2 linked regions of the Homo sapiens genome follow. The protein of the gene in region 1 interacts with the protein of each later gene in a pairwise test. Each region holds a gene or a part of one and is shown in the gene's direction. Other genes may lie near its edges.

Region 1 (3,174 bases):
AAATTTTGATGATGAAGATTAATATGGCCTTTTTACAAGATTGCCGCACAAATTTGTACAATGCGTGGATAAAAATTTTTTTAAGTGAGTTGTTTAAAAGGCTCACTTAAAAAAATCAGTTGGGCATGATGAGGTTGAACTTCAAGTTATTTAAGTTGTTGACTTTTATTATAGGATCATTAGTTCCTGTTGTTTAAAACTCATGTGAACCTTTAAGATGGGCTGAAGAAAAGTGGATCTGTACTACAAAATGAGGAAAGGGCTGCCAGCTTAAAGTTGCTGTTTTTGAAGATTCTACAACAGATGGCTTTATGACCAACCATAAGCAGATCTTAAGTATCTAGTGAAGAATTTAACTGCTAACAAGGAAGAATTTGGTTTGATTTAAAAGTAATATCTTCAAGCCTGGGCAACATGGAGAAACCCCGTCTCTACTAAAAATAGAAAAATTAGCTAGGTGTGGTTGTGTGTGCCTGTAGTCCCAGCTACTCAGGAAGCTGAGGATCGCTTGAGCCCAGGACGCAGGTTGCAGTGAGCTGAGATTGCACCACTACACCCCCAACCTGGGCCACAGAGTGAGACACTGTCTCAAAAATACATACCTTCAGCAAATCAAGATTTTTTTTTTTTTTTTTTTTGAGACGGAATCTCACTCTGTCGCCCAGGCTGGAGTGCAGTGGCATGATCTTGGCTCACTGCAGCCCTCACTCCTGGGTTCAAGCGATTCTCCTGCCTCAGCCTCCTAAGTAGCTGGGATTACAGGCACACGCCACCACGCCCAGCTAATTTTTGTATTTTTAGTAGAGACGGGGTTTCACCATATTGGCCAGGCTGGTTTCGAACTGCTGACCTGGTGGTCCGCCTGCCTCGGCCTCCCAGAGTGCTGGGATTACAGGCGTAAGCCACCACGCCTGGCCAAGAAAATCAAGATTTACCTGGTTTATGTGTTGACCAGCTATACACAGAGAATTCTAGATTTTTTTCTAAAAATTATTATCAAACCCCCAATTTCACCAGTAGAAAAAGAGATCTTAAGATTTCTGTGTTTTTTTTTCCAGCATAACTCAGTTACTTATGGCTGGGAGAAAATATGTAGGGAGATAATCTAATACCTAATTCGAAGGAAGAAAATATCTAATTCTAAGTCTTGAGTTCTTCTCATCAGACCATAGCAGGATTTAACATTTAACATTTTTCAGAAGCTTCTAATAGACTTCATTCAGTTTTTTGTCCACAGCAGTGGCATTTAAATTACTGTACTTTAAGACATGGAATTGCTGGAGGCTTGGAAACTTGAGTGCAATTTCCCTAGTACGACCTCCAAGGAGAATAGAGCAAAACAGTGGTAGGAAAAACTCTCAAAATTTTACCCAATTGTATGTTTTCTACATTGTCAGTATCTAGTTTTATATAGTTAATATGTACTTCTAAAATTTCTGACAGTGTTTGGTGTATAAAACAGACCAAGCTCAAGATGTAAAGAAGATTGAGAAATTCCACAGTCAACTAATGCGACTTATGGTAGCCAAGGAAGCCCGCAATGTTACCATGGAAACTGAGTGAATGGTTTGAAATGAAGACTTTGTCGTGTACTTAGGAAGTAAATATCTTTTGAATTAGAGAAAGTGTTGGGACAGAAAGTACTTTATGTAACTAAGTGGGCTGTTCAGAAGCTTAGAGGTCATTTTTTGTAATTTTCTTTTTAATTACTTTAGAGAGCTAGGGATGCAAATGTTTTCAGTTAGAAAGCCTTTATTTACTTTTGGAAATTGAACAAGAAATGCATCTGTCTTAGAAACTGGAGATTATTTGATGTTAGGTAAAACATGTAATTGTTTCTCTGGCAAATTTGTATCAGTAATTTGAAAATGAGATATTAGGAAAAACCAATTCTTCTTAAATTTAGTTCATCTTTCTTTAAAAGAACATTAAATGTAACCATTTTGTCAGATCCATGTATTTTGGAGCATAAAATGTATGCTGTTGTGACCAATAAATATAAAATATGGTAATTGGAATTAACTCCACACCATAGTATGCATTGTTATACATACTGTGTACCTAATTATGTATAGCAGTGTAGTCTCAATTATATCTGAAAGTAATTGTGACTAACAAGTATGCTTTGCCTTATTTCCACATTTAAACTACCTGTTAATATAAGGGATTTGTAGTATCAGCTTGTTGAGCAATGACTTTGAATCTAGTTTTCAGTGATCAGAAGCAGCAGTTATTTGAGTGTATGAATGGAATGATGATCACTGTGCTATAATGTACTGAAACCACCATATTACAGAAATATTTACTACATATTTTCCATCTGTAGTTTCTCAGAAGGGCTATGGATTAGTTTGAACTGTCAAATCCTTGCATACTTCTGTGACACCCCTGCCCATTTTCTGTCTTTAATTAACCAAGGTGTTAGGTGTGACTGTCACAACTGTTATGTTTTCCAGTAAACTAGAAGTACGATATTTGATAATTATATTTGTATTTCACCACCTAAATGTAATGTTGATTCCTCAAGAATGAAATGAAGGCACTACATTGAAATATGTTTTGTATAAATTTGTCATGTTGAACAGCATTTTAGCATGGTAAGTTCCCTTAGCTATATGAATTTTGGCATGTTTCAGAGAGATCAGTAAATAAAATATTAGATAAAATATATATTGTTTGTGTTGAAGTTTTTAACTTTTCAGAAATTGTTGATTTCTGAGCTGGGATATACTATATTCATTTAGTCCAAAATGAGCCTAGTAATGCTGAAAGCAAATTTTTTGTTTCTCAGTACTTTATATTATATGACTTTCTCTGCACTATATGTTAATAGCAAGTTTGTTTTCTTGAATTAGAAAAGTAACATCAAATAGTATAGGATTATTTTGGCTTTTTGTTTTTTTTTCCCCCAGAATTAATGGGATCACCATCAGGGGAGGGGAGAGGCTTGACCTTTTTCCCCCTTATTTAACACTACAGAGATGACCTGAAAAGGAGAGACTGGCATTTGGGTTCTTTGAGTCCTGGTAGCGTGTAACAGAGTGGTTAAGAACAGACATTCCAAGTCAGACTGCCTGGCTTTAAATCCTGGCTCCACTATTTCCTAACTCTGTGGTCTTAGACTAGATACTTTTCTAAGCCTTCATTTTCATCTCTGGAAATGGGGCCAACAAT
Region 2 (7,352 bases), on another chromosome or scaffold:
AGGTCAGGAGTTTGAGACCAGCCTGGCCAACATAGTGAAATCCCCTCTCTACTAAAAATACAAAAAACTAGCTGGACATGGTGGCGGGTGCCTGTAATCCCAGCTACTTGGGAGGCTGAGGCAGGAGAATAGCTTGAACCCAGGAGGCGGAGGTTGCAGTGAGCTGAGATCGTGCCATTGCACTCCAGTCCAGGTGACAGTGCGAGACTCCGTCAAAAAAAAAAAACAACAACAAAAAACTGCATAAATGATTTTTTAAAATGGTACACCTCTATAGGACACTTAACATGAATGGAGCTTGCAGGACTGGAAGTTGCTGTAGGTGAGTGAGTGAGTGGTGAGTGAATGTAAGGCCTAGGACATTACTGTACACTACTGTAGAGTTTGTAAACTTAGTCCACTCCATTTATTTTTCAATTTTTCTTTCTTCAATAATAAATTAACCTTATCTTACTGTAACATTTTTACAAACTTTTATATTTTTAAAACTTTTGACTCTGTTGTAATAACAGCTTAAAATACATTGCACAGCTGTACAAAAATATTTTCTTTCTTTATAGCCTTAATCTATACTATTTTTCTATTTTTTTTTAACTTGCAAACCTTTTTTGTTAAAAATGAAGACACAAACACACACATTAGTCTAGACCTGCACAGGGTCAGGATCATCAATGTCATGTCTTCCACCTCCACATCTTGTCCCACTGGAAGGTCTTCAGGGGCAATAACACACATGGAGCTGCCATCTTCTATGATAACAATGCCTTCCTCTGGATACCTCCTAAGGGCCTGCCAGAGGCTGTTCTACAATTAGCTTTTTTTTTTTTTTTTTTTTTTTTTTTTGAGATGGAGTCTCACTCTGTCACCAAGGCTAGAGTGCAATGGCGCGATCTCGGCTCACTACAACCTCTGCCTCCCTAGTTCAAGAGATTCTCCTGCCTCAGCCTCCCAAGTAGCTGGGACTACAGGTGCTCACCACCATGCCCAGCTAACTTATATTTTTAGTAGAGACGGGGTTTCACCATGTTGGCCAGGTGGGTCTTGAACTCCTGATCTTGTGATCCACCCGCCTCAGCCTCCCAAAGTGCTGGGATTACAGGCGTGAGCCACGGTGCCTGTCCAGCTTTATTTTTTTAAATAAGTAGGAGTATACTCTAAAATGACAGCATACATTTATTATCATTATAAGTATTATGTACTGTACATAACCGTATGCGCTAGACTTTTGCATAACTATCAGTGCAGTAGGTTTGTTCCACCAGTATCTCCCCAGACACATGAGTAACATGTTGCACTATGATGTTACAACAGCTACAACGTCACTAGTTGATAGTAATGTTTCAGCTCCATTATCATCTATGGGACCACCATTGTGTACGAAGTCCATGGTTGATGGAAATGTTGTCATTATGCGGTGCATGACTATATGTTATAGATTATGTAAGGGTAATTGAGTTCCAAGTTCCAAGTCAAAAAATGTTTGGAACACAACTCCTTTGCTAGCAAATTAGACACTTACAGTAGCTAGTTCCCAGGGAAGTCCCCTGAAATACTTTAAGGGCCTGAATCACTGCTGAGCCAGACAGCATGTAGGAGAAGGCTCCTGGGTCTCATGTGAAGCTGGAGGGGTGCCTGCCCTAGAGATTCCGACCCTGCCTGAGGAACCCATTCATCCCATCTGGCTGAGACCTTGGTGGATCCAGGACAGCTCAGCATGCTGGCAGTCAGGGACAGGAGAGCCAAGGACCGCAAGGTCCCATTCAGCCTTGGTGCGATTCAGGCCCAGTTGGGTGTCTGGTGCTAGGACTAGGTGCTTTCGGAGGGAGATGGGAATTGACACATGGGCAGCAGCCCGCGGCAATGGCAGAAACAACCTCGGGGCTGGAAACAGAAGCTGTAATTACAGGAGAAAACACCCACAATGAATTCCAAAAGATGACCCTTTTGCTCCCTAGAACCAGGGAGGGAAAGGAAGGGGAGGCACGATCTCCTGGTAAAAACAGGGTAACATGAAAAATGCTGTGCAGTCAGGCTGAAAACTAAACAGATGTGAGTTTCTTTAATACAAAAGTTTAATCATTCTGACGTTTTCCATAACTTAATCTGAGCCATCGCTTCAGCTTGAATTATGCATAATGAAATGGATTATTTACAGTATCTCACATGACAGGAAAAACTGAGAGGTGAGAATTGGTAGCTTGGCAACTGTTGTTTATTTTTCTTTTTATTTGGCCAATATATATTGAGTACCTACTATGTTTCAGCCCTTGCCAGGGTCCTATTAGGAAAAAATAGTGTGGCACATGCCTGTAATATCAACACTTCGGGAGGCGGAGGTGGGAGAATCGCTTGAGCCCAGAAGTTTGAGACCAGTTTGGGCAACATAGGGAGACGTCCTCTCTAAAAAAAAAATTTTTTTAATTAGCCTGGTGTGGTGGTGCACGCCTGTGGTCCCAGCTGCTCCAGAGGCTGAGGTGGGCGGATTGCTTGAGTCCAGGAGATTGAGGCTGTAATGAGCTATGATCGCGCTGCTACACTCTAGCCTGGGAGACAGAGTGACAGTGAGATCCTGTCTCCAAAAAAAAAAAAAAAAAAAAAAAAAGTATTTTTAAAACACATAGTATGGGCCAGTTTCTTTCACTTCTTTCTCTTGTGTATCGCTTGCGATGATACTGTGTAGCAGGTATTATTTTCCCTGATTTACAGAAGTGAGTGGAACTGAGATTCTGAAAGGTTAGGTAAATTGCCAAAGGTGACACAGCAACACTCCCTTTTGTTTTGTTGTTGTTGTTACTATCTATGTGCTTCGAACAGAGACCTATCGACTAGCTTTCCTAATCTTACTACCTTTCCTTCATGCTTTACACAAGAAAAGTCAACTTTTCTTAAGGGAAAGGTTCTTGTTATTTTGAGCAGGAAAGTAAATGACCAAAATTGTACTTTGGGGAAATTAACCTAAGTTTCTGTAGGATGTGCTGCGGGCCAGAGCCCAGGCCAGAGGCAAGGACCTTAAGCCAGGGCAGTAGCAACAAGCATGGGAAGGGGCCCGGCAGCAGGCCCTGGAGGCTGGAAAGGGCTTGTCAAATGTTTGGATGTGGTGGAAGGGAAGGGCAGCCTTGCCACCCTAGGTTTGGGACGCAGGGGACACAGGGGACACTGGCAGGTGGCGCAGCCTGGGTCAAACCCCTCACTCTCTGAGCCCTTCTTGCTTGGCACCCTTGCAAATAAATGCCTTCCTTTCTATTGCTGCAAAAACCTCGGTGTGGATATCCGGTTTTACTGCACAGGGTGAGTGGACCCAGTTTGGTTCCATAACACTGTCTCCCTCTATCCCTCGTTGGTGACCTCCGTGTAGCAGGTGCTAAAAGCTGGTTCACCTGTGGGGCATGTGTAGTTTTCAGAGCGCCTGTGGGGTCTCGTCCAGACTGGGAGGCTCTGACTCAACTCCCCACCTTCTTCACTGCATTCCTGCCCCCAGCCTTGGGCTGCTGGCCTCTCCTCCCCTAGCTGGCAGAGGAATGGGAGAGGTGGTCCAAGCCCAGCTGCCTTCCACTGTGCCCACTACTTCTCTTACTGCACCATGTCAAGGGGACAGGCCACTGCTCGGCCGTTCTCTCTCTGCTCTGCTGTTGCTCCTTCTCAGTGGAGACTAGACCCCAGCCCGCGTTTGTTCACATGCCACATCTTGTGCCCTGGCACAGGGCTGTGTGGAACAGAAAGGCATCGTGAAGGGCAAGACCTGCATCACTCCCCAGTGGGCAGAAGCCTCACCACTCCAGTAACCTTCCTTCACAGCCTTCTTCGAGGGCTGGAGGGGCGGTGGTGGGGGGTGGAGTCAGAGGGCAGTCTTCCACCTCAAGTCAGCCTCGAGGAGGGGTCTGCTCCCAGCTCTCAGATCTTGTCTTTAGAACGAGTGCCAGTTAATTCCCAAGTCTGAATCCTACTCATTGATTCAGGACAGCAGAAAAACTCCCACTTCCCACCCCTGTTTCTGGAAATGACCACAAGCCTGGCTACAGGGCGACCGAGACCATCATGGGTGGACTACGCACGTCCAGCTCTTAGTGTGGTCTCCGTGTCTCGGTTTTCTCTTTTGACTTCTCTTTTGGAGCTCTTGGTTGAGACACTTGGTGAGTGTGGACTTTTAAGGTAAACTCTGAGCTGACCAGGACTGGCTGGTTGGTCTCTTGGGTGCTATGCAGTCACAGAAGCAGGTAATCAAAGAACAAACAGTCCTGTGGTGTTTGGAGTCTCCCTTGGCTACCGCCAAAGCCTCTGTTTGATTTCTTGCATGGCAACAAAACCAGGAGGGGAAGCTGAGTGGCTTCTGGAATAAACTTTGGGTGTGAGACGGGATTCAGGCTGTGGCTAATGTGCTGGAAGCACGCACAGTTGTGACCATCAAGTATGCAGGAAGCAATCATTCTCCTGGCTCTCCTGGGTGCCATGTCAGGTAGGAACTCAATTTTGCTTTGGAACCTTGCTTGCCTACTTGGTCTGCATAATACCATTGAATGACAATGTCCCCCAGAAAGGAAATTGCCCCTGGGAGGCTTGTTCAATTGAGGGCTTAGCTGCAGTAATGAATGAGGTGATGCCGCTCCAGGGAGCCCTGGGGGACCAGGTAGGAGCCCTGGAAAAGAGAGATGCTTAAAGAGCCTAATCTAATCTATGTTGGTGTAGACTTCACTTTCCCTCTTGGGTTAACTGGCCTGCATTTGGTAGTCCTCCTGAGATTTAAGGTTGGGAAAATAGTGTTCATAGCAGAGCTTTGTGAGTATGTCAAGTGAGTCTTTGTGGAGATTCTGGCCCTTTTCTGGAGGCTCGTAGGGCAACTTGAGGTTGACAAGTGATCCTTTGAGGAAAGTGAGTTACTGAGGGGGTGTCTTCCTCTTGAGCAAAGAAAACACCTTCTGATAGAAGGGTCAAAGACTCAAGCTAGTGATCATTTTACTCTCTCTTCCTCATTCAAGGGCATCAAGAATCTTAGATGATCTTTTTAATGTCAGCTTGGATTATTGAAATTGAGATTTTAAAATTAAATTTTATTTCTGAATAGGTAGTATATGCATAATATATTGAATTTATGTTAAATTTGCAAATTAATTTAGGGATAATTTACATCTTTGACAAGTTATGTAGTAAAATACTTAGAAGAGTGTCTGAGTACATAGTAAATGCTTAGTAAATGTTAGTGAGTATTATTTATGATCTTGAGTCTTCCTAATCCAAGAACAGGGTTCTAGATACTTGTTTGAGTCTTCATTTGTTTTTCTTAGGAGTATTTTGAGGTTTCCTTCATATAGATTTGGTACATTCTTATTATGGTTATTTCTAGTTCTTTTACTTTTTCTTTTTTTACATTTGTAAATGGAATCTCTTCTTCCCTACATCTTTCAACTGATTATTGTATGATGTATGGAAATCTGTTAACAAATTATCTTATTATTTGGCATGGTTTTTCAGGTGATTCTCATGAATTTTCCACGTTTGAAAAAATGAACATTTATATTCTTCTTCTCCTATGTCTATAGCTCCTATTTTTTTCTTATCTAACTGCCAGGCCTGGACATTCTGACCATTATTAAATAATGACAAGAGTGTAAATTCCTGTCTTGTTTCCCATTAAGCATGATGTTAACTTTTGGTGTGAGAGAGAAATGTTTTATATGTTAAGGAGGTGGCTTTTATTCTTATTAATATAAGAATATTACAGTATTTATTTCTAAATAAAAATATAATAAAACTAAATGTAAGAATATTCAAGTACTTATTTCTAAATAAAAATGGATTTTTAAATCAAACGCTTTTTCAAGATCTATGAAAATGACCATTTAATTTTCCTCTTCGATCTGCTAATAAGATAAATAAATAACTGGGTTTCCTAATATTGAGCCCTCTTCTATCTTGGGCTTTTCAACTCAGCAGAGGGCAGGATGACCTGTGAATGTGAAGTGGGCCATGAGCAGTTCAGACTGTCACTTGAAGTAAACATTTCAGATTTCCCCCAGAAATATGGGCTTTTAGGGCCACAATCATTTGAGTCGAGGTGACTTTTATTGTCACTGGGGAAAGAGTGAGGTTAGGAAGAACCCAATTTCTTATACTGAACACTATCATTTGGAATTTTATCAGAAGTGTGAAAGGGATAGATCACAAAGGTTTGCAAGAAATACTTGAGATTTCTTATTTAAAACACACAATAGAATCCCTTAGGTCAAATCTTGTTTTTGGAAGGGCTACTGTGACACAAACTGTTTCTTTTGTGAGTCTGAGAACCTGGTCATTACCCTCACACTCCAACACCTGGGCTACAGAGGCTTCTAGCGGGGCAGCCACATCAGCACCCCTTCAGGCTGTTGGAAGCAGGCATCACTATAATAATCTCAAATAAAGTAACATACAGTAAAAAATTAGCAGAGCATGAAGACGGGTGCCTATAATCCTAGCTACTCAGGAGGCTGAGGCAGGAGAATCGCTTGAACCCAGGAGGCGGAGGTTGCAGTGAGCTGAGATTGCGCCATTGCACTCCAGCCTGGGCGACAGAGTGAGACTCCATCTCAAAATAAGTAAATAAATAAAGTAACATAGAGTATCCTCTTTCCTTTCATGTGTTCTAACTCCTATGCTTCCTTCAAGGCCCAACTCAAGCCCCACCCCCCCCCATGGAGTCTTCCTGGATTGACCTAGCTCCTGGGGAGTGCTCCTGCTGTTGCACCCTGGAGCTCCTCTTGCCTGCACATGGACTGCCTGCAAAGAGTTCAGTCCAGCACCTAATGCAGATTCAGTGCTCAGCCAAAAGTAGCATGAGCTATCATACTGTAATTCATCTGTTATATGGCCATTTCTGCCTCCTCAACTAGAATGTCAGCCCTGCAATAACAGATTTCATATATCTTATTGCTCATTGTCCCTGTGTGCCACATATATAGAGGATATCCAATACATATTTGCTGTTTTTATTTTTATACTTTTTGAGTCTGGTATGGTTTTTTCCCCACATTTACTGATACACCCCAAATGTAGAGCTTTAGATCTTCTTCCTGCTTGATATTGACATTTAAATTCACTTCTGTCCTTTCCACCTCCTATGAAGATGAGTTTCCCTTTGTGAAGCTATAGTGCCTATTCCACCAACAGCTTACAAAGGGAGGCTCTACAAGAATATAAACTAGACAAAACTTTCAACTGCCCCAGTGGAAAGAGTTGAGACAAAGCAGTCATCTGGCTCCATCAGTCCCAAAGGATCACATGTGAGTCCCAGAAGATGAAGGACATAGAGAAGGACCCTTGGTATTTTTAAATCCACTGCACATGGAAGCTGTCTATGTTTTGAAGAAGCATCCAAGGAA

What was found.
Region 2: the proteins of SRP9 (region 1) and CDHR3 interact in binary tests that used the Homo sapiens proteins (3 or more experiments, as listed by UniProt).

Annotation. Positions count from the first base shown.
Region 1 is NC_000001.11:225,787,797-225,790,970, forward strand, and holds the end of SRP9 (signal recognition particle 9 kDa protein), read left to right. Parts: intron 1-1,443; coding exon 1,444-1,563; 3' UTR 1,564-2,668; downstream 2,669-3,174. UniProt on the Homo sapiens protein: Component of the signal recognition particle (SRP) complex, a ribonucleoprotein complex that mediates the cotranslational targeting of secretory and membrane proteins to the endoplasmic reticulum (ER).
Region 2 is NC_000007.14:105,958,912-105,966,263, forward strand, and holds the start of CDHR3 (cadherin-related family member 3 isoform 1 precursor), read left to right. Parts: upstream 1-4,352; 5' UTR 4,353-4,407; coding exon 4,408-4,453; intron 4,454-7,352. UniProt on the Homo sapiens protein: Cadherins are calcium-dependent cell adhesion proteins.